Linked DNA regions of Homo sapiens: region 2 is linked to region 1. A link means that fine-mapping ties the variant in region 1 to the expression of a gene that starts in the linked region. Tissue or cell type: whole blood. Region 1 holds a variant in brackets; the other region holds the start of a gene. All regions are shown on one strand. Distances are between the middles of the regions.

Region 1 (2,752 bases):
CCTGCTCCTCTCAGGCCCCTGGGGCCTTGGTTTGCAGCCCGGCTTCCCCAGGGTGAGAGCAGGGCCGCAGGAGTGGGCTCCCTGCTGCTGCACCGCCCCCAGAGCAAGCTTGTTCTGAGGGCTCCTGCCTTGGGAGCTGAGCCCATGGTGTGTCCTCATGGGGTGCTGCGCATGGGCCTCGAGGTGGACAGTGCAGGTGGGCCCGGGGCAGGAGTCCTGGGCACGTGGCCTTCCTCCCCACAGGGAGCTCAGCTTCAAGCCGGGGCTCGGCTGCGCTATCCGCTGCCAGCAGGAGACAGGGCTGTCCCAGCTGCATTCTGCCAGGCTCCTGGCTTCCAGGCTGCCCAAGTCCTGAAAGTGGGACCTGCTCGGGAGGAGGGGCGCCTGCTGACAGAGCCTGGTGCCTCACGGGGGGAGAGTGGGCGTCATCCAGCATGGACAGCCCCTTCCCCGGGCTCTGTCCTGGGTGTGACCTGTTGGCTGGGTCTCTTTTTCTCTCTAATGTTTACCTTCCCCTACTGGTGTCCCTGGGCCTGGCCAGCACTCCCAGCACCCACGGAGGGGCCACGTCTCCCCCAGGCCCACCAGCCCCTCTCTTCTGGGGAGGGTGATTCCCGCATGCCTTCTCCCTGCCCCCCCACCCACCAGCCCCTGAGCCCCTGTGGCGTGGCTGGGAGTGTGGGTGACCTGCACGGGTTCCAGGGGCGGGCTCATCTCTCTCCTGTGCTTTTTTCCGTGCAGTGCGGTTTGTGTGGAGTTGGGCTCCGGTGACTCACCCTGCAGGTTCTTTCTCTGGGGTGTGGCTGGTGTCTCCCCGCTGCAGCCTGGTGCTGGCTGGGTCCTGACCGCACCTGTCGTGGCAGGAAACACATTCGTCGTGCCTTGGCTGGTCCCTGTGTGACTGCGTCCCGCCACGTGGGCCACACCCTGGGCCTACCCACCAAGGCCCAGCCTTGGCCCCAGGGACATTCAGCCTGGAGGTGACTGGCTGTGACTCAGGACCCAGAGGAGTAGAGGGAGCCAGGCAGGGGTCCCTCCACCTCGGGGAAGAGCTGGATGGGCTCTTCGGGAGCTCAGAAAGGCTAAGCCTTGAGGGACGGTGACGCAGAGCCGCCTGCCTGCCCGGGCCTCTGCATACCTGGGATCGGGGTGAAGGACCTTTGCCTCCTAGAGGCCTGCCTGAGCCGGGGCTGGTG[G/GT]TGGAAGGCTGCTGCGGCGGCCCCACGGTGCCCCACAGCAGGTCTGCACACTTGCAGCAGCCCGTCTGACTCACAGGGGCCTGGGCTCCATCTCTCAAGCCCCTCATTTGTGCTCCACCCACAGGAGGTGCTTCCCAAGGACCGTAGATGCCTCTCTAGAGCATGAGCTCAGGCAAGAGTGCCCGCTACAACCGCTTCTCCGGGGGGCCCAGCAATCTTCCCACCCCAGACGTCACCACAGGGGTAAGGGTGTGCCCCTCTGCAAGCCCAACATCCCCAGGACCCCCAGCATGCCCCAGGGATCTGGTGTTGCCTGCAGAGCTCCCAGCGCAGTCCCGTCCCGAGCTGGGGTCTCAGGGGAGCTCGGTGGGGGGGGGTGTGGTGTGTGTGTGTGTGTGTGTGCGCGCGCGCGCGCGCGCGCGCACGCGTGCGTGTGTGGTTGGGGCGTGTTAGTGCTGTGTGGCGCGGCCTGGTTGCATGGTTAAGCGTGTGAGTGCTGCGTGGCGCGGCCTGGTCGCATGGTTAAGCGTGTGAGTGCTGCGTGACCTGGCCTGGTCGCATGGTAAAGCGTGTTAGTGCTGCGTGGCGCGGCCTGGTTGCATGGTTAAGCGTGTTAGTGCTGCGTGGTGCGGCCTGGTCGCATGGTTAAGCGTGTGAGTGCTGCGTGGCCTGGCCTGGTCGCATGGTTAAGCGTGTTAGTGCTGCGTGGCCTGGCCTGGTCGCATGGTTAAGCGTGTGAGTGCTACGTGGCCTGGCCTGGTCGCATGGTTAAGCGTGTGAGTGCTGCGTGGCCTGGCCTGGTCGCATGGTTAAGCATGTTAGTGCTACGTGGCGCGGCCTGGTCGCATGGTTAAGCGTGTTAGTGCTGCGTGGCGCGGCCTGGTCGCATGGTTAAGCGTGTGAGTGCTGTGTGGCGCGGCCTGGTTGCATGGTTAAGCGTGTGAGTGCTGCGTGGCGCGGCCTGGTCGCATGGTTAAGCGTGTGAGTGCTGCGTGGCCTGGCCTGGTCGCATGGTTAAGCGTGTTAGTGCTGCGTGGCCTGGCCTGGTCGCATGGTTAAGCGTGTGAGTGCTGTGTGGCGCAGCCTGGTCGCATGGTTAAGCGTGTGAGTGCTGCGTGGCCTGGCCTGGTCGCATGGTTAAGCGTGTTAGTGCTGCGTGGCCTGGCCTGGTCGCATGGTTAAGCGTGTGAGTGCTGTGTGGCGCAGCCTGGTCGCATGGTTAAGCGTGTGAGTGCTGCGTGGCCTGGCCTGGTCGCATGGTTAAGCGTGTGAGTGCTGCATGGCCTGGCCTGGTCGCATGCTGAAGCGTGTGAGTGCTGCATGGCCTGGCCTGGTCGCATGGTTAAGCGTGTGAGTGCTGCGTGGCCTGGCCTGGTCGCATGCTGAAGCGTGTGAGTGCTGCGTGGCCTGGCCTGGTCGCATGGTTAAGCGTGTGAGTGCTGCATGGCCTGGCCTGGTCGCATGGTTAAGCGTGTTAGTGCTACGTGGCGCGGCCTGGTCGCATGGTTAAGCGTGTTAGTGCTGCGTGGCGCGGCCTGGTCGCATGGTTAAGTGTG
Region 2 (2,622 bases), 42 kb after region 1:
AAAAAAAAAGAAAGAAGAAGTGGGAAGAGGCCGGGCGCAGTGGCTCACGCCTGTAATCCCAGCACTTTGGGAGGCTGAGGTAGGCGGATCACTTGAGGTCAGGAGTTTGAGACCAGCCTTGCGAACATGGTGAAATCCCGTCTCCACTAAAAATACAAAAATCAGCCAGGTGTGGTGGTGCGTGCCTGTAATCCCAGCTACTCGGGAGGCTGAGGCAGGAAAATCGCTTGAACCTGGGAGGCAGAGGTTTTGCAGTGAGTCGAGATTGCACCACTGCACTCCAGCCTGGGCGAGAAAGCGAGACTCTGTCTCGAGAGAAAAAAAAAAAAAAGGTGGGAAGAAGGAAAAGTATCCACTGGATTTAGCAAAGTGAGATTGTCAGTGACCTTGAGGAATTTCCACTGGAGAGCTAGAGAGCTGGGGGTAAAAGGCAGATGACTGGGGTTGCGGAATGAGTGGGAGGTGAGGACGTGGAACTAGAAAAATGGTGAGGACCGCTCTTTGAAGAAGATAATTTGGGATTGTTTTATGGTGTTTTTTTAAAGGCTAACCGGCAGGAAGGAGAGGAGGTGAAGGTATAGGAAGGAAGGCTCCATGGGAACTATGGCCTGGTCAAGGGACAAGATGCACCCCCTCTGCGGCCAGAGGAAGGGGTGCAGCCAGGTCTGTAAGAGCAGCAGGAAAAAACCATGCGACAGCCTGTCTCAAGGGTGAGGGCACCGGCGTGGAGCTCACAGAGCTGGAATGAGGGCCTGTGGTTTTGAGGGGGACCCTGGGCTCAGTGGGATGTCCTGAGGGTCAGGCTGGGGCTGGGGTGCCAGATCTAGCAAGTAAAACTACAGGATACCCAATAAAATTTTTTTAGCATAAGTATTTCCCATGCAATGTCCTGGATATACTTACACTAAAAAAAAAATTATTCGTTACTTGTCTGAATTCAAGTCCTGTAATTTTCAGCCAATCCTAGCCCAGCGTGGCGCAGTAGTGGGTCAGGGAGGGCACCGGAACAGCGCGACCCGACAGCCCGGGAAACGGACAGCCGTGTCAGAAGGGCAGGTGCCAGTGGGCAGGAGGCCGGAGAGAAAGCCGCAGCTTCCTTCCACCTCGCGCCGGGCCCGCGGCCGCGCACGGGGACCGCTCCGAGTTCCTCCCGGCGGGAACCCCCCGCCCCAGAACTTTGGTCTCGTCCCACCCACCCCCGCCCGCGCCATGGTCTCGCCCTAGGGAGCCATCGATAACTCTACGCTCGGCCTCGATCGACTCGCTCCGGCTCCCCTCGCCGTCCTGGACACGGCGGAGTGCGGAGCCGCCCGTAAGGTACGGAGGCCGCGAGCCAGGGGCCGGGAACCGGCTGCTGGGTGGCTGGGAGAGCACGGCCAGGGGAAGCCGGCCAGCAGGACGGAGCAAGGGCGGTCACCGGAGGAAAGGGGAGCTCGGGGGTCCAGCCAGACTGCGCCCTTTCCCATCAGGGCCTGCCGCTGGCCTGCTACGCATGCGCAGCCGCAGCGCTCGGCTTTCCCCGGCCCATCCGCCGCCTTGCGCACGCGCAGCCCGCCCCTGCGGCAGAGTGGCGCCCGCGCGTGACTCCCCCCTGCCGGCTGCGGAGGTGGGGGGGGGACGGCGCCCCCGCCGTGTGCGTGGGGCGGGGATGGAGCACGCGCCCTGGAGCCCCGGAGCCAGGTATCACGCGTGTGACGCGTGTCCCTGAACCTACCTGCGCTTCTTGTCCCAACTCTAAAATGGGAATGATAAGCGCCATTCGGCAGCGCCTTGTGGGTCTATAATCTACTTAGCACAGAGAGTGTCTTCTAAGTACTTCACATCCTTCTCTGCAGATGCTCTGACCTTTGACCCCTGCCGTTCAGCTCTAGGGCCCGTGCAGGCCACACCATGAACACCTCCCCAGGCACGGTGGGCAGTGACCCGGTCATCCTGGCCACTGCAGGCTACGACCACACCGTGCGCTTCTGGCAGGCCCACAGCGGCATCTGCACCCGGACGGTGCAGCACCAGGACTCCGTATCCTCCACCCGGGGCGGGCAGGGCGGCGCTGGGGGGATGCCTCGTGTGGGGACCACAGCCTGTGTGAAGGCCAGATGGTGGAGGCCTGGGGGGCCCTGGCCTCAGGGCTACCTTCCCGTCATCCTCCTTAACAGTCCCAGCAGGTGAATGCCTTGGAGGTCACACCGGACCGCAGCATGATTGCTGCTGCAGGTATCTGTGATCCTTGATCTCTAAACTCCTGAGCTCTGGTGGGTCGACCTCAGCACAGCCAAGCTTCAGTTCAGCCTGTGTCCCTAGGTTACCAGCACATCCGCATGTATGATCTCAACTCCAATAACCCTAACCCCATCATCAGCTACGACGGCGTCAACAAGAACATCGCGTCTGTGGGCTTCCACGAAGACGGCCGCTGGATGTACACGGGCGGCGAGGACTGCACAGCCAGGATCTGGGACCTCAGGTGCGGTGGGGAGGGGGCGTGCTGCCCGGGGCTGGGGTGGGCTGCTCTGGGAGACCGTTTTAGGTTGGGTTCTCTTCAAGCAGAGGCTGAGACAGGGAGCTTCCTGTGGGCGACTTACTGAGAGAAGTGAGGACAGGAGGAGAGTGAATTGCATCAGA

The links. PIP is the estimated chance that this variant, and not a neighbour inherited with it, causes the effect.
Region 2: MLST8 starts here. The variant in region 1 is fine-mapped to the expression of MLST8 in whole blood (INTERVAL, PIP above 0.99).

The regions. Positions count from the first base shown.
Region 1 is chr16:2,162,563-2,165,314 of GRCh38, forward strand. It overlaps TRAF7 (TNF receptor associated factor 7), which reads left to right. Exons shown (of 21, transcript NM_032271.3): 2 at 1,321-1,439. The coding sequence starts at 1,359. Among named protein-coding and RNA genes, the nearest start is that of TRAF7, 8.2 kb to the left of the region's middle. RefSeq lists enhancers at 408-909, 910-1,409, 1,819-2,592, 2,593-2,752. The variant G/GT (reference allele first, on the strand shown) is at 1,197.
Region 2 is chr16:2,204,196-2,206,817 of GRCh38, forward strand. It overlaps MLST8 (MTOR associated protein MLST8), which reads left to right and starts at 1,259. Exons shown (of 9, transcript NM_022372.6): 1 at 1,259-1,317; 2 at 1,836-2,019; 3 at 2,163-2,214; 4 at 2,302-2,464. The coding sequence starts at 1,891. RefSeq lists enhancers at 234-1,074, 1,914-2,622 and a silencer at 1,167-1,816.